Linked DNA regions of Homo sapiens. The protein of the gene in region 3 interacts with the protein of the main gene of each other region in a pairwise test. Each region holds a gene or a part of one and is shown on either strand. Other genes may lie near its edges.

Region 1 (7,669 bases), on a different chromosome or scaffold from region 3:
TAAGGGTTATGGGAGTTATGAGCCAGGAACTATAACATAAGACTGTAACAAGGGTTATGGGAGTTATGAGCCAGGAAAACGTTGTATATATACAGAGAGAGAGAATCGTAATATCATAGTATTTTTTACAAATTACAATAATTGTTAAAAAGTAACAATAGTAAGCAAGATGGTTTGAGCCACTGAAGAATGCAAAACTCAGAGTCCATTTAGAACTGATCGTCAAAACGGAGAAAAGGGAATCACCTCTGTAGAAGGAAGAAATACAGAAGACAAAATGCAGTCCAAAAAAAAGGGCTACTGTATTGATAAATTCCATTAGAGATAAATGGAAATCCTTTAACAGTTTGTAAAACTGCTGCCAAACATTTTAAACATCATGTAGATCAGTTCATACTCCAGGTCATAAAGTATGAAATTTCTTCCACAATTGACAGGATCAGTGTGGTTAGGGAACATTAAGTGCACACTTCTAAGTACAAACTATAAGGTTTTATTCTACACAGTTACACTACTTTATTAGTCAACAAAATCAAACTATTAGAGCAAAATTACATATGAGTTTCATGTTTTCTTTTAAAAATCGATCTTCTACGCATGATTCTAGTTTTTAATAGTGTTCAGTGCCATTGCCCATGTGGTTTCAAAAAAAACTTTAATAGGATCTACATTAGCATTTTTCTCTATTTTTGCTTACCTTCGGAAATCCTTCCTTTTCAGCTAGTATTACTTTTTTAAAAAGAAGAAAAAAGGCCTACAAAAGTCCAGAATTACTAAAAAAAAGTCCTTGAAATGAACAGCCACATATTAATCACTTTTCTCCTCAGCTCAAATGTTAATTAAGCAAGTTGTAATTTAATCACTGATGTGCAATCAGAATTCATTTTACATTAATCAAACAGTAGAATATAATAATATTCAAAACCTGAGGCTTTCTTTTAAAGAGGAGCACTTCAGAGTGCTTTTGTACCTACCACATGTGAGGCATTAATTCAAGTTGGAGGACAATGACTCAGCTTGAAGGAAGGCGGAGTGGAGTAACAACCTCCCCATTCCTTTAGGAAAACTTTTCTTTCTGGCTAAGGGAGAGGAGAATGAAGTGGTTGAGAACATGCCCTCAACGTTCTGAAGACATGGAGAGATGTGTGTTACTTGTTATGTGGCTCCCTAAAAAGAAACATTACCAGTTAGAGGGACTTCAAGTAACTGAGGCCACCAATTTCTACTTTCGCTCTACTTTTTCTGGGAGTGGAACGGTCAGGTTTGCCAGTATTGTGAAAATCCATGAGGAAGCATTACTTCTCTCTTCCACTTGCCTCATTCTGAGTGGAACCCCAGAACCTGGTGTAGGGCTTAATAATCCAAGAAATTATTTTGAGTGGAGAATCTCTCACTCTCTGGCTCTTTTCTCCCAATAGTAACAATAATAATGCCTCACTTGTTAAGAGATACCGTGGTTATTGAAGTATTTTCTCAGCAAACAGATACTTCATGTTTGGGTGTATTAATGTAGGAAGATAAAGACACACATGCAGTGTTTCCTAAACTTTTTGGCTCACATGCTTCTTTGCTCATGCACAACCTAGACAAAACTATGTAACCAACTCCTGTGTACAGTTTCACGGAATTGCAGGTGCCTAACAAGATTTTCTTTTAACTACACCTGCTCACAAAATTTACACAGTAACTTGAGACAAACGTTCACAGGAAGTAGATAAAACTTTTCAATACACCGTTAAAGTCTTTCCAAAAATCTATTAACATTAAATTGTTTAGAAATTCTATACAAGTCTACTACTGTATTACCAAATAAATTCTTAAGCAAGAAAAGGGGAAAACTATCTTTTCATGCTTTCAGGCCAGTAACTAGCACTTAGTCTTCTATGTAGGGAGGTGCCCAATAAATACCGAGAGACGAACGGAACCGCTGAATCCCGTCCGCGAGGTTAGGGGAGAAACAGAAGCGGCAACGTCTCTGCTGCACGAAGCACCCGGTAACTTACTGCCTACCCCTCACTCCTGTCTAATCTTTGCTCTCAATGGATTGCTGGGTTGGTTTTGTTTTATTCATTTTTGTTCTGAAGCAAGGAAACTTAACTTCACGTGGAGGGCCACTGTAAACTGCTGCCTCCCTTAAAAAATGCATAACGAGAAGAGTAAGTTAAAACGTTTGGGGCCACACAGAAGGTTCTAGAAGTTCTGCAGACCCAAGCTGCCACAGTCCTTAATCGCATGGAATCTCACTGTAACTTTTATCTCCTCTGATTTTTTTCCGCTCCCTAACACCTAGGTAAATTAATCAAAGTGTGGCCACCGATAACGCCCTCACAGGTTTAGCTTAAATCGAATGCGTTTTCTCTCGGACTAGGGGAGATAATCCAAGAAACAAACAAAACTACACCACGTCCATCCACAACAAATCTCAACAAGCAACTTCGGTTGCCGCAGCCTCACTGTGCCCCAGGCCCCGGCCCGCCACACGCGGCCTCCGTCCGCTAACCGCCCGCGAACCGCCCGCGCGGCGAGCAGAACGCCCGAGACCGCCCGCCCGGAGCTCACCTGAGCTCCAGCTGGTCCAGGCTCTCCAGCAGGCGGCTGGAGCGGTCAGCCATGGAGGAGGAGCGGCAGAAGCGCCCCTCGTTGGCTTTAGCGTTGATCTTCGCCTGAGCCATCTAAGCCTCCGACGCGGGGTAGCCAAGAGGTCACCGGCCCCTCCGGCGGCAGCGAGTGGAGCGCTCCTTGGGCTGCAGGCGTCGCCGTCACCACGCGGGCGCCCGCCCTCCCTCTGACGCCCGCGGGGGCAACCCGGGAGGACTCGCCGACACCGCGGCTGCAGCGTAGCCAAAGAAGGGCAGGCGCGGCGCCCGCGGGGCTCGGGGACGCCGGGCCTGGGAGGGGGCTGCAGCGGCTGGAGTTAGAGGTTCGCGAGCCACACGGGCTCGAGGATGGGCCGACAGGGGCTCGGGCCTGGGGAGCGCAAGTCTCTGAGGCACGGGAGGGGCGGACGCAGAGACCGAGCGCCTAATGTGGCTAGCGGATCGTCTGCTCCCCGGACCCAGGAACTACCCGAAGCCCGCGCGGACCCACAGACCACCCCCAGCTCCGCCCCGCGAGGCCCCGCCTCTTCATGCAACCTAAAAGTAACCAACTCCCCCCACGCGAAGGTTCCTATCGGTCGACGGGCTGTGGGTGTATTGCTCAGTGACGGCTTCGTTTAGTTTCTCCCAGCACCCATAATTCAAAGCAAGAACAACGACATTATGGGGAGAAAACGTCCTTTTGTGAAACAGAAGGCAGTAAGTACAGCTCGTAGGCAGCCCACACTCACCTGACCTTCCTGTTACCACTTTATACTGAGATGAGAGTAATGAAAGCCCGGACAACACTGAAGCTATGAAGTAAAAAAGAAAAAGCTACTCCATCTTTCCCTGTCTAGCTAGATGTGGGAAGCAAAGTGAATTTACTTCATTTTTACCATTCTAATTTTCTTTTGTTTTTGAGATGGGGTCTAACTGTCGCCCACGTTGGAGTGTAGTGGCGCGATCACGACTTACTGCAGCCTCGACCTCCCGGGTTCAAGCGGTCCTCCCACCTCAGCCTCCCAAAGTGCTGGGATTACAGATGTGAACCACCACGCCTGGCTTAATGAAGGGGTTTTAAATTTTTGCTATTAAAATTATTCCTGTTGAGCGAGCCGAGATCTCGCCACTGCACTCCAGCCTGGGCGATAGAGCGAGACCTTGTCTCAAAAAAATAAATAAATAAATAAATATTCTGAGTGAAATAATTGGCATTAAAAAGTCCTCAACTTTTAAAAATCCTGTTAACAAAAAAGATGCAGTAGGCCTCTAGGTCAGGCACCAGCTGTCGGTAAAAGACGGAATAGAGCTGAGGATACAAAGATTAGTCTACTTAAAAAGTTAGGCTTTAGTCCCCTCTCCTGATAGCTCTATGCCTCTCATTGCAAGGATGACAATGTACAGGGCACAGAAAATGATAGATAATAATAGTTTAAAGCTGAGCCACCACCTTTAATCAGAGATCAAAGCCATTTAAATACTTGAACAGAGTTGAAGCCCTTAAGGCTGGATCCCAATTCCCTCTGAACTCATTTTAAATCCTAATTAACTCTTGGGGTAGGGGATTATTTGACCTTATTAAAAATAACTTTATCATGACACAAACGAAAACAAAACACATTTTGTGAGTGGTTTGAAAGTCTATCAAGTGACTTTAGAATCATCCTGAACTCTTTTTCTCTCTTATCCTAGATCCACACCATTAGTAAACCCCATCAATTTTGCCTTCAGAATATATCCAGATTCTTCCCAATTCTACCGCCACCATTCTGGTTCAAGCTACCTGGTGAGTTTGCACCTGGAATACTACAATACCTTCCTCTCTGGTCTCCCTGCTTCTACTCTTGCCTCTCATGTACATGTTATCTCAGTGCAGCAACTACAGCAATCCTAAATAAGGCAGATCATACCATTTATTCTCAGAAACCTTCACTGGCTCCTTACCTCAAAGTAAAAGCCCAGGTCATTAGAAAAACCTCAGTAAGTTCATTTCCTATTACTCTCCTAGCTCATCCTGTCAGCCATACTAGTCTTCTTGCTTTTCCTTGAATATACTAAGCTCCTGTCTGGACCTTAACCTCCTCCACCTGGAACTCTCTTCCCGATATGTATTTTCATCCTCATTCCCTCACCTTCTTCAGGTCTTTGCTCAAGTTTACCTATCAGTGAGATCTTTTCTGACAACCCTATTAAAAATAGCAAGCCTCCCCCCAACTCCCTGTCCCTGCACTATTTATTCCCTTCCCTTCTTTATTTTCCGTCGTTACACGTATCACCATCAGATATGCAGTTTTATTGCCTTGCTTACTAACATTGTACAATCCCCTCCTCTCCACCAATATGTGCTCCACAGAGGGGTAAGGGCTTTGTTTTGCTTACTGGTATATTCCAAGTGCTTAGAACAGTTGCTGGCACATGGTGGGTACTCAATATTTTGTGATTGAATGAATTAATGAGTGAATGATGTAATGAAAAGATAAGCATCTTTGTCAATGTTAGAAACATTTACTTCTGACGATAATCCATATAGCTTTCTCTGATGTTACACAGCGATTACATCTCCTTGTGTCTAAATTAAAGTCAAAGTATGAATTTTAAGATGATTTTTAATTATTTAACAAGTAGAAATACGATCAGTGACAATTATCAATTAAAACATTAAACAACCCAGTTACCTTTTCTTAACAGTCATGATGAAATATCCCTTTCCTGTCTTATCAGAAGCCTTAATTATTCTCTACCACACACACCACAAAAGCTTCTTAATAGAGCATCAGTGTCCATCACACCTTTGTGTAGAATCTCTGGCAACAAGGTGCTGTCTCCTCTTGCCCTGCCCCCACATCTGCTTAACTACTCTTCTTTCTGGAATGCCTCTTTTGCTCCCATTTTGTGAGCTCCTGCAGATGTGTTTAAGGTCCAGCTCAGTGACTACCTCCTAGAGCCTTGCTTGACCACTTAAACATACAAACTAAAAGCACAATGTGGTCATTTCGGAAAGATGATTGATAAATTCTCAAGCCACAATGTCTAGTTTTTAAAAAATGCAAGCAGGGAGGAACAGAAGTGACATATCAAGAAATTAAAAACACAAATTATAGATTGAAAAGACTATAGTAATAAAAAAATTCAATTTCACACTAAAATATTTAGTGTTACAGAGAAGGAACCAAATTCTAGCCTTTATATTTTGTCTTAAATATAAAGAAAAGCTTTATATTTATAGAAATGTTTTTAAGTTTGGTAAATAATTACTACTAAAAATTTTTAGAGATAAGACATTTCTGGTTAAATAACATGAAGCATATACACAAAGATAATATGACAAGCCCTTCTTAGTCTTCTACTTATGTCGTATTTTTTATTACTCACAATGGGGCCTCAATATTTAAGAATTAAATATGTAATACCAAATGAAGGAAACTGACAATTCAGTGAATAACTAAACTGAAAACACTTCACATGAAATAAAAATTTAAAGAGTTAAGGAAGATTATTCCTGAGTAGGCTTTCAACATTATTTCTTGAAGAATATTATGTTTACACCAATATATAAAAAAGGACTGTTATGAAAAATAATTTTATGCAAATATTCTGACACCATTCCCTTTAACCAGGAGACCATACAAGTCACATAAAAGTCTAAGCAGGTAAAAGGAATGGAAATTGTTTCATTTAAATTATTTCTTAAAAATTAAGGTGTATTTTTTATTTTAGCAATGTGCTGCTCTAATTAAAGCAATAATTTACATATGCATGGCACCCACAAAGAACATTGCTGATAAAATTTTAAATGTTTCCATGATCAGTTTCCATTACCCTCTTCTAATAAACATAAACAAAGATCTCAAAGGTATTATATAATAGTGCCACATGAGAAGTAGAATTTATGGAAAACTTGACCTATGTCACCTTTTTTATATTCATTTTCACTGCTAAAAAAATAAACTAGCATCATTTGTACAGTACAAATAAAATTAAAGAACTAATGCTATTTGGGAAACAACTGTCAAGAGCTTTCCTTTTTTTTAATCCTTTAAATCTAAATATATAAATTCAAAGTTAACTGGGAAACTGTTACACCTATATTAGAATACATAATTTATATTTGCATGAACATGTATTCTATTTCTTCTGTACATGTTTGCACATTAGCACAAAAATACAAAACAAAGATCAGATTTTGAACATATGAAAGCAAAAACATGTTTTCAAATACATTTGTAATAGTGGATTTCTGGTCTCCTTTAGAAAACAAACTCAAGAATTCGTTATCTCAGTCTCTTCAAGGCCACTTGATGTTGTGTGGTAATATCTTTAATTACATTTCCTCAAGACTTCTTCTAATAGCTTCTTCTAATTCCACATCTGCATTAAAAAACATAGAATTTTAACACTTAGGGCAGAAAACTCAACATGTGCTGTATTTATTTAAGTTTCATCGACTGTATTCTTTTCAAGAAGGAAAGTAAAATCAAAATGGAAAAACACAGGATAACTTGGCAGTTTCTCTACTAAAAAATTGAGTATTTTGAAATATGAAAATCTAGACATGATCTTGAATTGAATTTTATATATGAACTTAGAACTTGCAAGTTAATTCCACTTAGGAATGTAGAAAGTCAACAAACTTTTAAAATCACTGACAGGTAATCATTTGTTTCAACATTTAAAAAAAAATCTGTATCACTTATTTGCTAAAAGACTTGAGGTGATACATATAAGACTTTAAACAGAAAGGCAACTCCATGAAATGACAAAATGTCACAGGCCATTAAAAATTTAGTTTAATTTTTAATTATACCTCAATAAAGCTGGGGAAAAATTAGCTTAAAGCATCCTAGCATCTAAGGTAGTGAAACTCATAGCCACATAAATGTCATCTGAGAAGCATATAATATATGCTGTATGCAGATGTATGTAAACTCATTTGACAAATATTTATTGAATGCCCATTATATACCAGGAACAGCAATGTAATAGTGAACAAGACAGACGTTATTGGGTTCACAATAGTTGAGTTCCATCTCCTCCTTGGGAATGATGCTAAAATCCAGGAGGGTGAAATTTGGTGTCAATTTCTTGGCCTT
Region 2 (7,109 bases), on a different chromosome or scaffold from region 3:
TCATAAACAAATAAGCAAATTACCTCTATGAAAGATCTATACAAATTACAATATGTACAAAGCTGCCAAGTTTTATTTGCACAGATGACAATGGAAAACAAGTTATAAGTAATAAATAAAGAAATATTCTAATTTACTACAATAAAGATGTTATGACTGTAGAGGTAACTGTATTAATACAGCATCACTGAAACTAGAAAAAGAGTGAAAAACACAGTCCCACCATCTTAAGTATTATAATCTCTTTGGATTTTTCCCTTTTTGTTTTCCATGCTCATATTTTTTGCTCGTTTTAAATCACAACTAAAAAGAAATTCAGTTGAAATTTCATTTACTTCATTTTCATATTGTTGAATATGTTGATTTCTTCCTATTATTCATTACTACAAATAAAGTTGCAATGAAGCTTTGCTTATTCTAACTTACCTCTTCAGGAGAGATTCCCAAAAATGGGATTAGTGGGCTTGGAGGTATAAACATTTTTATGACAACTAAAACCTCTTGCCAAAACCTTTCCAGAAAGATTGTTACTAATTTACAATGCCACAAAAGCATGCATGAGATCATCAGTTTCACCATGCCTTCATTAGCACTGAATATCACAATAAAAAGTGCTAATAGTTGGGAATTAGTAAGTAAGAGTAGTATTTTTTTTTGTCATTTTAATTTGAATTTCATGAATACTACCAATGATGAACAACCTTTTCAGTTTTTAAAATACTAGTTAGGTTTCTTTTTTGAATTGTGTATTTTGGTACAATTAAATGCCCATTACTAAACATTCCCCTATCTGTTGCTTGGATTTTATCTTGCTTTTTTCCTCTGGAGAATGAGCAACACGTATTATCTCACATAAAAAGACTAGGGGAAGAGTGGTCCCAGACTCAGCTGCTTCAGCAGCTCAACACTGAGGGCCACCAGCTTTTCACTTCATCAACCTTGGCATTTTGACCTGTCATCTTAAACTGACTTGTCTCATGATCTTAAGATGGGTGCTGAGTTCCAGCTGCCACATGCAGACAACAATGTCCAAAGACTCAAAGGCTACCTCTAGTTTGTGCATGAATGTGAGTGTTGAGTGTCTATACATTTTCTCTCTGAATTTTGGAATAGTATAAATACCACAAAATGTACATTATTTTCTCTTATAATTTAAAAAGTGCCTTTATATTTGTTGTTATAGTTCCTTTATTATTATATCTAGTGTATTCTTTTATTTTCAAAACTGTTTTCTTGCTAATGTAACACATAAACAGAAAATGTACAAAACAAAAACGTATAGGTTAAGGATTTATCATAAAGTGAAGATCCACGTAACCACCATTCAGATTAAGAATACTGCCAGAACCCCAGAAGTTTCCATAATTGGGCCCCCTAAAATATTCCGAGAGTCCCACCTACCCAAAGTAACCACTATTGTGAATTTTACAGTAATTTCTTGGTTTTTCTTTATGGCTCTGCCATCTATCTACACAAGCATCCCAAACACTATAGTTTTTTTGGCCTGCTTTTCAAACTTTATATAGTTAGAATCTTGAGTATGTATCTATCTTCTTTAATTCATAATGTTTGGTGACATTCATCCATGTTGAGAACTGCTGTGATTTCATTTTCACTGCAGTATAATATTCTTTCATATGAATGTACTCTTATATTTATCCATTCTACTGTTGACAGAGATCTGTACTATTTCTAGACAATGACTTTAACATAATGTTGTACACATTCTTTTACATATCTCTTGGTACTCGTGATGCACAAATGCATTTCTCTACAGTACATAAGGATGAGTGAAAATGCTGGGTCACACAATACACGTATCTGCAGCTTAGGCAGATAATGCCAAATGGTTGCAACAACTTGTACTCCCATTACCAGTGTATGAGTTTGTGCTTTTTCATAGCTTTGTCAATATTTGGTATACCATCTATTTCATCTTAGCAATTCTGGTGGGTGTGCAGTGTTCTCTCTTTGTGGTTTAATTTTGCATTTCCATGACTACTGAGACTGAGCATTTCTTCACATTTATCAGACATTTCTTTTGTGAAGTGATGTGTTCTCATGCACATTTTCAAAAGTCGAGTTTTCTTTTTCTTACTGATTTGTAGGTATTCTTAAAAAAAAACCTCTCTATTGATTGTATACATACTATATATATTCTCCCATTCTGTCTTGCCTTTTTACTCTCTTTACAGTGCTTTTGATTCACAAAGTTTCCAATTTTCACACAAGCAAATCAATCAGTCTTTCCATTAGACTTTCTTTGGTTTCTTATTTAAGAAGTCTTTGCCTTTCCTGAGTTCGTTCAGTGCTTTAAAAGTCTCAAGGATGCCTCTTCTTTTAGCAGTACATGGGCCTGAAGTATTCCAATTTTAGGGAAGCAGGCAGAAGATGCAACAAAAATTAAAATACGAACAAGGCAAATGGAAGACTCGCCTATAAACAAATTACGTATTTGAAAATGACAATATTGGTAAAAATGATATGGTTTAAAGGTAACGCAAAACTATCTGGAACTGACCTATCACGAGTTTCTAAACTGGAGCTGATACAGTAAGTTATGACATATATACAGATAAAACGTATTTAAAACAAGTAGAATTTGCAATCCATGCTTATAATACAGAATAAACATTCCTTTCCAGTACACAACACAGACAAAAATTGAGCACATGCTGGCCTATAAAAAAGTATCAGCAAATTTCAGAGAACTTAATCATATAGAGGTAAGTTCTCTGGTAACAAAACAATCTGGCTAGAAAATAATATCTCAAAGATAACTGGAAAATCTCCATGTATTTGAAATTAAGAAATATAATTCTAAATAACTTACAAGTTGGGTTAAAGAAAAAGATATAATGGAAATTAGAAAATATTTCGAATTGAATATTAGTGAAAACATTCCATTTTATTAGTCTTTTAAATAATCAGTATTTGTTTTGTTAATTCAATTTGTTTTTCTATTTCAGTATCAATACTTGTATTTTTATGACCACTGAAACATCTTGCCAAAACCTTTCCAGAAAGATTGTTACTGATTTACAATACCACAAAAGCACGTATGAGATCATCTGTTTCACCATGCCTGAAATAGAAAATTTTCTATTTTCTATTTCAATGCTTGTATCTTTGTTATTTGGTTCTACCTACTTTATGTTTAATTTGCTGTCCTTTTCTGACTTCCTGAGAAGGAGGTTTAGCTCACCATCTCCAGTCTTTTGTTCATAAAGGTTTAAATTTCTCATAAAGCACAGCATTATCTGTATTCCACGTTGAGTTTTATAGGCCTTCCCAATTTGTGGCTTTTTTGTTGTTGTTAGTTTTGGAAAATTCTCAGTGATTATCTCTTCAAATACTGCTTCTGCCCAATTTTCTCTGACTTTGCTTCCTGGGACTTCAATTTAACGTATGCTAGTCCTTTTTATTGCATGCTCTGGGTCTTCTTTTTAATTTTCCATCCCTTTGTGTCTCCAAAATTCTGGATAATTTTCTTCTATCTTATCTTTTAGTTTCTTAATTCTTGTATTTGCTTTGTCCAATCTGTTTTTAAGCCCATCTGTTAAGTTCTTAACATTACGGGGTTTTTTTGTTCTAAAATTTCCATTTTTTAAATAAATTTCAGTTCTCTGCTAAAATTCTCAATCTTTTTGTTTTTTAAATACCCTTGAACACAGTAAACACTGTTATATTAAAGTCAAAGTCTGTGCCTAGTAACTCCAAATTCTGGAGTTCCCAGGAGGCTGATTCCATTGTTTGTTTATTTCTGCAAGTTTTCATTTGCTTTATTTGTGTGTGTGCCTAGTTCAGCTTATGTGCCAAGTTAGAAATAATAAGGTCTGAGATGGTGTTTTATTTTATTTATTTATTTATTTATTTATTTTTGAGACAGCGTTTTGCTCTTGTCGCACAGGCTGGAGTGCAGTGGCATGATCTCGGCTCACTGCAACCTCCGCCTCCTGGGATCAAGTGATGCTCCTGCCTCAGCCTCCTGAGTAGCTGGGATTACAGGCACTTGCCACCACGTCCGGCTAATTTTTGTATTTTTAGTAGAGATGGGGTTTTGCCATGTGGGCCAGGCTTATTTTATTCTTCCAGAGACTATTTGCTTTTCCGGGCATTCTGGAACCCCTAAATCTAATTTCTAATCACTACGATCTAATTTTAACAAACTTTTGGGAGGTCAAGGCAGGCAGATCACCAGGTCGGGAGATTGAGACCATCCTGGCTAACACGGTGAAACTCCGTCTCTACTAAAAATACAAAAAAATTAGCCCGGCGTGGTGGCGGGCACCTGTAGTCCCAGCTACTCGGGAGGCTGAGGCAGAATGGCGTGAACCCGGGAGGTGAAGTTTGCAGTGAGCGGAGATGGCGCCACTGCACTCCAGCCTGGGCGACAAGAGCGAGACTCCGTCTCAAAAAAAAAAAAACAAAACTGTATGATGCATCTGTAAGATGTCACTACTGAGAAGAACTGTTTATCTCTGGTTTACTTTACTTCTAGAGTCCAGCCTTTTGGGGTGTCAACCCAATGTGAGAGAAGCATATTAGGCTCTCACAATTCTTGGTGGGCCCTGAACTTATTATTCTGTTGGGGGAATAAAAAAAAAAAGGGACACAAAAACAGTATGTAGGCATACAAACAACTAAAACAAGAGCTGAAAAAAAACCATAAATATTTGGAAATACACATACAAGAGTAGCAGCCCTAGTGTTTAACTGGTACAACCTTTATGTATTTTCCCACATTTAATTGTTTTCTGTTAAGTAAGACTCCACAATAGGTCTTATCTGTTTAATTCCATTAAAATATTTAATACTGTGGCAGATATAATTAGGCATTTATTCCTACTTTGTCATTAAATATTTTGTAACTTGTCTTAATAATATCTTTATTGATGTTTGTTTATTTCTTCCTCATCATTTTTATTAAGTCATTCAATCATCTCCATAATTTTTTTTTTTTTGAGAAGGAGTCTCACTCTATCGCCCAGGCTGGAGTGCAGTGATGCGATCTCAGCTCACTGCAACCACCGCCTCCCGGATTCAAGCAATTCTCCTCCCTCGGCCTCCCGAATAGCTGGGACTACAGGTGCACACTGCCACGCCCAGCTAAATTTTTTTGTATTTTAGTAGAGACAGGGTTTCACAGTGTTGCCCAGGCTGGTCACAAACTCTTCAGCTCAGGCAATCTGCCCACCTCGTCCTCCCAAAGTGCTGGGATTACAGGTGTGAGCCACGACGCCCGGCCAAGACAAATATGTTAATTATCTTTCTATCTGTAGAAGTAGATAGACCCACCATTTCTTTTCATTCTAGTCTCTCTGAAAACATTTCATGCTGTTGTAAGATAGAGTAGTTTGGTAACAGTCTAACTTTGGTAAGCAGGGAAGTTAGAGAAAGTCTCCCCTTAAGAAATTATCTTGATGTATTAGTGAAAGTACCCTTCAGAAGGAAATTTCCCAGAAAGCTTTATTTCAGGAACAACATTCCTTTGATCTCATATAGGATAGATACCTACAAAACAGAAGAGTAGGAATTCACTCACCCACTGGACTGCTTCCAGCTCCATTTGGCACTGTGAGGTCTGTAGTGCTCAACATCCCACCTAACAACGTTACGGAGAGAAGACAGAGGGCAGAGAATGAATATGAATTAGCTCTCTTTACCTAACTGAACGTGAACTGAATAGAGATAACTCTCACTCTAATCCTAAAAAGACACAAAAATAAAAACTAGCTCAGTCTGAAGTTGGCATTAACATGTAATCTGATGTAGTTATTATATCTCATATATATGAGTTTACCTTTCAAGCTTGATGTCGCCTTCAATACCAAATAGTGGTATTGCATCAATACCAAAATAGTACATACTGATAAAAACGGGGGCAGTGTGTAAGGAGTATGATTAAATCACTAAATTAAATCTAGGACTTAAGAGAGAGGAGACACTGCATTTCATAGACTAATACAATAAATGTAACATAAATTTTGCTGAATTAATGAAGTAATTCAGGCAGGAGGAGATGTAAAAGATACTCTAACTCCAATCAGGTAGTCTATCACCCATATTTCTAACATGAATGGCTCACACTCTACTTTAAATCCTTGCTTCTGATATCTAACTAAATTTTCTGCCTGTCAAAGTATGGCTTTCCCATGAGAAGGAAAGCATATAAATGGCAGGTTCTCAGTACTGTTCTACTTTGCATGACACAATGCTACACCCACAATTGATTTTCAAAAAAATACTTTAAAATGAGGCCAATTATGTATCAGTGATTCTTGCTCATCAAAGCAATAAAAGAATAGCAAAATAAGAAACTGCTTATGTTAGCAATGAATTTTTTCACCCTCTTTATTAAAGAACCAGCATAATAGGTATCACTACATACCTGCATTGCCAGTACTTGGTGGTCTCTGAGGAGCTCCAGGAGACACATTTCTATGTAATGTGGTTTGAGGTGGAGAGAGCATGCTTGAATCTGTTAACGTTGAGCTGGCTGCCAAAGATGGGGACACCAGTGAACTCCCTGGGTTAGTGTAGGACAAAGCATTGGGGCTGGTCACTGGAACTGTGACAGACATTGAAAAGTTCTGAGGTGGCAGACCAGGCTGTAAATAAAGAAAAAGAAGGAAAAAACTGTTGGTTTCGTATTCATCTACAAAGTAACTTTTGAACTTTAATTTGGCAAGGTAACTCAAGTTACTAAAAGTAGAGGATAGGGATAGGTTCTTAACCAATTTACAGATTAAAGCTATTTTCTTTAGAATTATGTTTGAACATGAATATGACTGACATGAGCCTTTTCAATTTCAACTTTATACATTAATATATACTAATGTCTATATTCTATATTTCAAATATTCATAAAGACAAATTTAAGAGGATAAACCTGATAATCAAGTAGTGTTGTCATATTTAGACATTACAAAATATATCACTGTCACCAAGTAAGCATAAATTGGCACTTCAATGTAAACCTTAATAACATTACATTTCTACTGAGAGATCCCAAATATAACGGAAGGAGAAAAGTGTGTACACATATTATTAACTTAATATGTCAAATCTGATAAATCATAAATATTCCCCATTCTGATTTAATTGAC
Region 3 (7,216 bases):
GCACAGTCCCCACTGGGAGCCCAGGGACTGGGCATTTCAACATCTGGACAGCCAGGCTCACTAGCCACAGGCTGTAGAGAAGGCTGGAAGCGGATCTGTTGGCGGATGCCCTCACGCCTTGCATGGAAGTCCTCAATTTCAGCCACAATGGCCTCCTTAATGCGCTCCCGAGTGAGGGCTTCGCGGTCAAAGGCAAAGTCAAAGGGCGGGGCACAGTCAGGCTCATCATCAGGATCATGGTACTTGGCCAGGAAAGGGTGGCGAAGGGCAGCAGCTGCTGAGATGCGAGCGCTGGGCTCAAAACGCAGCATGCGACCCAGCAGTGATAGGGCCTGGCGGTCGGCACCTGGGTACACTGTCTCCCAGGGCACAGGCTGGCGTGGTGGCAAGCTCTGGATATAGGCCCGCACCCTCTCAGCCCCCACAGCCTGAATCACGGCTGGTGATGGGGTACCCAGCACCATCATGATGAGCTGTAGCTGGTGTACATAGTTTTTGCCTGGGAAGAGCTGGCGCCGGGCCAGCATCTCACCAAAGATGCAGCCCACAGACCAGAGGTCAATAGCCTGTGTATACTCATGCAAAGAGAGCATGAGCTCGGGCGCACGGTACCAGCGCGTGGCCACATACTCAGTCATGAAGTACTGATGTTCAGCGGGCGAGGTGCACAGGCCACGAGCCATACCAAAGTCACCAATCTTGAGCTCACAGTTCTCATTCACCAATAGGTTGGAGGGCTTCAGGTCACGGTGGATGACCTGAGCCGAGTGCATGTACTTCAGGCCCCGCAGCAGTTGGTACAGGAAGTAGCGCACGTGTTCCAGTGTGAGGGGCTGTGAGGAGTGGATGATCTGGTGCAGGTCGCTTTCCATCAGGTCCAGGACCACGTAGCTGGAAGGGGAAGGAAGGAGAGAAGCATGGGTTGGCCTGATCACACTCCAGGGACAAGCCCCATCCTCACCACACCCTTCCGATTCCAGACAGGTAACAGCCTTACCCTGGGACCCCATAGGGGCTGACGGCATGGTATGGAAGAAGAGCATCACGTTTTAGATTCTCTACGACTTTTCCATGAACTTGGTTAAATCACTTTTGTCTCCAGACCTAGTTTCCCCATCAGATAAAAGATGGGGTTGGACTACACCAGGGCTGGCCAATAGGTTTCCTTTTGGGGCTATCTCCATTGTTTGGTAGTGGCAGCTTGAAGAACTATGATGAAAATTGACCAGGCTTGTCCACTGTCTGTAGGAAAGTGTTCTGTGATTGATTAGTGAAGTCTGCTATGGGAATAGGAGGGTGTGGTCATAGTAGGAATGTCCTACATTTGACATCCTATATACTAAGATTCTATAAAACTGTAAAATCATCTGTACACTTCTTGAGGAATAACAGTTGTCCCTGGCAAAACTCTAAAGAACTGGTCCTAGAACTGCGGGAATTTTCCCAGCCTGCTTCAGATTAGATTCAGCTGCCTTTCCAGAACTTCGGCAACATGGTTGCAGCCTTCAGAAAAGTCCCAAGTCTGGCTCCCTCTCCCATCCCGCTTCTTACACAGATTTGAATTCGCCATAGGGCACGGTGGGCCTCAGGATGTCCTTGATGGCGATGATGTTGTCGTGTTTAAAGTGCTTGAGGATCTTCAGCTCCCTGAGGGTCCGCTTGGCATTGGTCACCACATCGAAAGCATTAGGGATCTTCTTGATGGCCACCTGCTGGCCTGAGGAGCAGGGAAAAGGGACATACCAGAGGATACCTTGGAGAAACTGCAGAGTCGACTCAGCCCCTATCAACACCTCCCTTCTAGGATGCAAATGACAACAGCTACCAAGTATTGGGTACCTACTATGTGCCAAGCCCTGTGCTAAGCATGTTACCTACATTATTAAATGTTACCTTCACAACTCCCCTGCGGGGCAGGTCCCAATAGGTCAACGTTAAAGAGAAGGAAATATGGCTTAGTAACTTGTTGGAGGTTGCACGGATGCCCAGTGGTGTAGCTCAGCCTCTTATGCCTACACCCTCTCCATCTCAGACCTCACCCATCCCACCACCAGTTCCTTATGCCAGTGTCTGGCTCCAGAACACATTTCTCTCTTAGACACGAAGGACTGGCTCTCCATTCTGGTCTAACTGGGACTATCATTTTCCTAAGGAGGAAGTAGGCAGGCAGGATGGCAAAACCACCAGGCCGGAGTTTCAGAGAACCGAGCCTCCCCGGAGCCTGGCAGGCAGAAGGCCCTGGTCAGTGTGTGTTGACTGGAGCCAGAACTCGCACCCCGCTTTCCTTCCCGGCTGTCTGGGACAGGCCGGTTTCCCACTCCCTGCGACGCTGCCACATCTGGGAGGCGACGGCTCAGGAAGCTCACCGGTGAGGCGGCGGCGGGCGGAGGACACCACTCCATAGGCCCCGTTGCCTATGGTCTCGATGATCTCGTACTCGTCGCCCACGTCAAAGGTCACATCGAAGGAGCGGGCTTTAAGCAGGGCCAGGTTCTTGGCCGCTACAGAGGCAGCGGTGTGGGCGGGTTCGGCCTTCACGGGCCCGGGGGGCTCCGCAGAGCCGTCCTCGCCGTCTTCCTCCTTCAGAGGCTCGGCCATGGTGTCTGTGTGGAGACTCGGGTGAGGAGAGGACCACCTACCGTGGGCCTCAGTGTCCCCTCTGCGGGCTGGGGAGCAGGACCAGGGAACTTCCCAGTTTCCTAAACCGACAAGGGCAGAAGCGCGCGGCTGGTTCGTGGCAGACTAGCTACCCCAGGGGTCCGGGCCCAGAGCCGGGGGCCCGCCAGGGTCGGGGGAGGGGTAGGCGAGGCGCGGGCCAGGAAGAAAGGGAGGGGCGGGGCACCTGGGTTTCCTCAGGGCCGCACTCACCCCCGCGCCTCCTCAAGGCTTTCAGAGGTCCCGAGGCTCGCCGGCCTCCCGTCCCCAGCGCGGGGGTCTCCGAGGGTGGCTCACTTACTTGTTCAAAGGCCGCAGCCACCACCTCAGCGTCTTGAGCTGCCCTGTCCGTCCCCCTCCGCCCCGCCTCCCAAGGCCACGCTCCCTCCAGCTCCTGGCCAATCGCTGAGCTACTGCTGCGGAGGGTCCTGCCCCTTCTACCTACTGCGTCCAATCCTAGCCCACCGGCCGAGAAAGCCACGCCTGGCGCGCGCCGCTGTCCAGCTCGCCGGCGGGAGCCGCCCAAAGGGTGCCCGGCACTTCGCAGGGGTGTGCTCCCCGCCCTGCACCGCCTTCAAACGCATGCGCACTGGCAGTCGGGCGCCAAGTGAATGGAAGGCAACGCCCCTGCACGTAGCGCGCGCGTCCCCATGAAGCTCTCAACCTCATCCGGCCAATCACAGCTAGTCCCGTGAGCTCGGGGAACTGCCCGGCCTGAGATGCCCAGGTCTGGGACTGTTACCTTGGCTACTGGCTCCCGAAGTCCCCTTCCGCCCAGGGAATTGTGTCCGCCATTTGCTTGGTCCCAGGAGCTCTGGGAATGTGTCATCCCCGGTAGAGGGTGCCCGTCACGGCCAACCACAGAGATCCCGGTCCTCCGGGATTCTAGAGCGTCCGGCCGAACCCTCCACTGACTTCCGGTGGCTGAGCCTCTCCGCAGCTTCCGGCCAAGTTGGACTGCAGCTCGCGGTTTCCTGGCTTCTAGGTATCTTCCCTCCGCTCGTTTGTCTGTCCCGCGATTCCCGTGCTTTGGGCTGCAGCGGAGTTAACCGAGGCGGCCGCCCAACCTCTGCTCCTCTGCGGAGCCCGCGGGTGGGCGGAGCCCTCGCTGGAACCGAGCTGTCCCGACCCACCCCAAAATCCGATAGTTTATTCGTTCATTCATGTAGCAAATGTTTATGGAGCACCGCCCCTCTAAGGCTCAGTGCCGGGAGGCGAAGGTGGACATGGTGGATACTGTGAGCTGGAAGGAAAGGTTTTCTAAAGGGAGCTCGAGGTAGGGCCGAAAAGAAGTGAAGAATTTTGGTTTCACTCCTAGGCGGCTTCTAGAAAAAAGCAATATGTATGCATATTCGTACCTACCTCCCCTTTGGTGTACAAAAATGTAGCATATTATGCTCTTTTCCTGAAGATCATTCCATATCAATAACTGGAGGGGTCCCTCACTTTTAAACAACTTTTAATAACATACCATAAAACTCATCCTTTTATAGTGTACAATTCAGTGTTTTTTGGTATATTCACAGTTGAGCAGCCATCATCACTACCTAATTTTAGGTAGAGTGGTTTATGGAACATTTTCATCGCCCCTAAAAGAAACCTATGTGAACCAAGTATCTGAGACAAGTCTCAAGTCAATTTAGAAAGTTTATTTTGCCAATGTTAAGGACATGGTGGTGACAGCCTCAGGAGGTCCTACAACATGTGCCCAAGATGGTCGGGGCATAGTCAGCCTTTATACATTTCAGGAAGACATAATACATAAGTCAATACATGCAAGATTGACATTGATTTGATGTGCTTATTGGCCATTTGTCTCCTTTGGGGAAATGTCTGTTCAATGTCTATTCTGGAAGGGCGGGACAACTCAAAGGGGAGGGGCTTCCAAGTCACAGGTAGATTTAAACATATCCTGATTGGCAGTTGGTTACAAGAGTTATTATCTATAGAAAGGAATATCTGGGTTATGATAAGGGGTTGTGGAGACCTAGGGTTTTTTGGTTGTTTATTTTATTTTATTTTATTTTATTTTATTTTATTTTATTTTATTTTATTTGAAGAGTGAGTCTCACTCTGTTGCCCAGGCTGGAGTGCAGTGGTGCGATCTCGGCTCACTGCAACCTCCCCCTCCTGGTCTCCTGCCTCAGCCTCCCGAATAGCTGGGATCACAGGCATGAGCCATCAAGCCCGGCTTTTTTTTTTTTTTTTTTTTTTTTTTTGTATTTTAGTAGAGATGGGGTTTCACCCTGTTGGCCTGGCTGGTCTCGAACTCCTGACCTCAAGTCATCCACGCCCCCCTGCTCCCGGCCTCCCAAAGTGCTGGGATTACAGGCGTGAGCCACTGCACCTGGCCAGGAGACCTAGGTTTTATTATGCAGTTGAAGCCTCCCAGTAGCAGGCTATAGAGAGAATAGACAAATATTTCTTATCAGACTTAAGGTCAGTGTTGATGTTAATGTTGGAGGGGTATAATAAGGCATGTCCAACTCTCACCTCCCATCGTGGCCTGAACCAGTCTTTCAGGTTAAATTTTAGGGTGTGCTGGCCAAGGAGGGAGTCCATTCAGATGGTTGCAAAGGGCCTTCTAATTTTATTTTTGGTTTATACCCATTAACGGTCACTCCTCATTCCTCTTTCACCAGAGCCCTTGCAACCACTGAACTACTTTCTGTCTCTATGGACTTGCGTATTGTGGATGCTCTATACTAATGGAATCACACACTGTGTAGTCTTTTGTGTTTGGCTTATTTCACTTAGCATAAAGTTCATGTTGTCATATTAGCACTAATTTTTATGGCCAAATATATTGCATTGTTTAGATATACCATATTTTGTTTATCCATCAGTTTATGAACATTTGGGTTGTTTCAACTTTTTGGCTATTATGATAATGCTTCTGAGAACATTTGTTTACAAGTTTTTTTGTGGACATGTTTTCCTTTCTCTTGGGAGTGGGATTGCTGGGTCACATGGTAAACTATTAACTTCTTGAGAAAGTGCCAAGCTGTTTTCTCCAGCAGTTGCACCATTTTACAAATTCACCAGCAATATTTAAGAGTTCCGATTTCTCCACATCCTCACCAACACCTCTTTTCTTTTTCTGATACTGAGTCTCACTCTATCGCCCAGGCTGGAGTGCACTGGCACGATCTCGGCTCACTGCAACATCTGCACCCCAGGTTCAAGCAATTCTTCTCCCTCAGCTTCCCGAGTAGTTGGGATTACAGGTCCCCACCACCATGTCCAGCTAATTTTTATATTTTTATTAGAGATGGTCAGGCTGGTTTCGAACTCCTGACCTCAAGTGATCCACCTGCCTCAGCCTCCCAAAGTGCTGGGATTACAGGCATGAGCCACAGTACCCAGCCTTATTATTATTATTATTTTTTAATTATAGCCATCCTAGTGGGTGTGAAGTGATACGTCATTGTAGTTTTGATTTGCATTTCCCTAATGACTAAGGATGTTTTCACGGTTTATTGGCCATTTGTCTCCTTTGGGGAAATGTCTGTTCAATATCTATTCAAATCCTTTGACCTTTTTTTTTTTTCTTTTTGAGACAGGGTTTCACTCCAGCCCAGGCTAGAGTGCGGTGGTAGGATCTCAGCTCACTGCAGCCTCCGCCTCCCAAGCTCAAGTGATTCTCCTGCCTCAGCCTCTCAAGTAGCTAGGACTACAGGCACACATCATTGCACTCAGCTAATTTTTGTATTTTTAGCAGAGACAGGGTCTCACTGTGTTGGCCAGGCTAGTCTTGAACTCCTGAGCTCAAGTGATCGGCCTACGTCAGCCTCCCAAAGTGCTGGGATTACAGGCATGAGCCACCGCATCAGCCCTCTGTCCATTTTTAATTGGATTATTTGCCTTTTTATTGTTGAGCTGTCAGAGTTCTTTATATATTCTAAACAAAAGTCCCTTATCAGATGATTTACAGATACAGATATTACCTTATTAGATGATTTACAGATATTTACTTCCCATGATTTACAGATATTTACTTCCATTTCTCAGATCGTCTTTTCACTTTCTTGATAACATCCTCTGTTCCACAAAAGTTTTTAATTTTGATGAAGTCCAGTTATCTGTTTTGTCTTTTGTCACTTGTGCTATTGTCATATCTAAAAAAAAAGCACTCATTTTTACAGCTGCATGATATTCCTTTACGAATATAACCTATTTAACCAAGACCCCCTAGATAGACATTTAGATGAGTTCAGTTTTTTCACTATTGCAAACAATGCTGCAATAAATTTTCTTGAACACATCATTTTGCACACAGCAAGTGTATATGCAGGAAGAATACCAGAAGTGGGAGTGTCAAGTTAAAGAGTATTGTTCTTACAATTTTAGTAGCTAATGTCAAATTTCTATCCTTAGAGATTATACTGATTTAGACACCCACCAGTGGTATGAGAGAATGACTCACACGGTGCTTTTTAAAAGCTTGGAATTATTTGCCTGTCAAAAATGGGGAGATTTGCCATAAGAATCCTGATTTTTGCTTTCTTTTGGGAAATCAGATCAGCATTTCTACGTAGCCATCGAACTGTGACCCCGCCAT

What was found.
Region 1: the proteins of MAPK7 (region 3) and BAG2 interact in binary tests that used the Homo sapiens proteins (3 or more experiments, as listed by UniProt).
Region 2: the proteins of MAPK7 (region 3) and MEF2A interact in binary tests that used the Homo sapiens proteins (3 or more experiments, as listed by UniProt).

Annotation. Positions count from the first base shown.
Region 1 is NC_000006.12:57,167,701-57,175,369, reverse strand, and holds the start of BAG2 (BAG family molecular chaperone regulator 2), read right to left. Parts: upstream 3,045-7,669; 5' UTR 2,673-3,044; coding exon 2,560-2,672; intron 2,501-2,559; exon of another isoform or gene 1,909-2,500; intron 1,168-1,908; exon of another isoform or gene 989-1,167; coding exon of another isoform or gene 975-988; intron 1-974. Other genes in the region: E3 SUMO-protein ligase ZNF451, read right to left, coding at 6,901-6,947. UniProt on the Homo sapiens protein: Co-chaperone for HSP70 and HSC70 chaperone proteins. Acts as a nucleotide-exchange factor (NEF) promoting the release of ADP from the HSP70 and HSC70 proteins thereby triggering client/substrate protein release.
Region 2 is NC_000015.10:99,673,895-99,681,003, reverse strand, and holds part of MEF2A (myocyte-specific enhancer factor 2A), read right to left. Parts: intron 6,612-7,109; coding exon 6,392-6,611; intron 5,606-6,391; coding exon 5,546-5,605; intron 2,357-5,545; coding exon of another isoform or gene 2,253-2,356; exon of another isoform or gene 54-2,252; intron 1-53. UniProt on the Homo sapiens protein: Transcriptional activator which binds specifically to the MEF2 element, 5'-YTA[AT](4)TAR-3', found in numerous muscle-specific genes. Also involved in the activation of numerous growth factor- and stress-induced genes.
Region 3 is NC_000017.11:19,374,283-19,381,498, reverse strand, and holds the start of MAPK7 (mitogen-activated protein kinase 7), read right to left. Parts: upstream 3,002-7,216; 5' UTR 2,869-3,001; exon of another isoform or gene 2,604-2,868; 5' UTR 2,599-2,603; coding exon 2,367-2,598; intron 1,718-2,366; coding exon 1,552-1,717; intron 1,016-1,551; coding exon of another isoform or gene 998-1,015; intron 892-997; coding exon 1-891. UniProt on the Homo sapiens protein: Plays a role in various cellular processes such as proliferation, differentiation and cell survival. The upstream activator of MAPK7 is the MAPK kinase MAP2K5.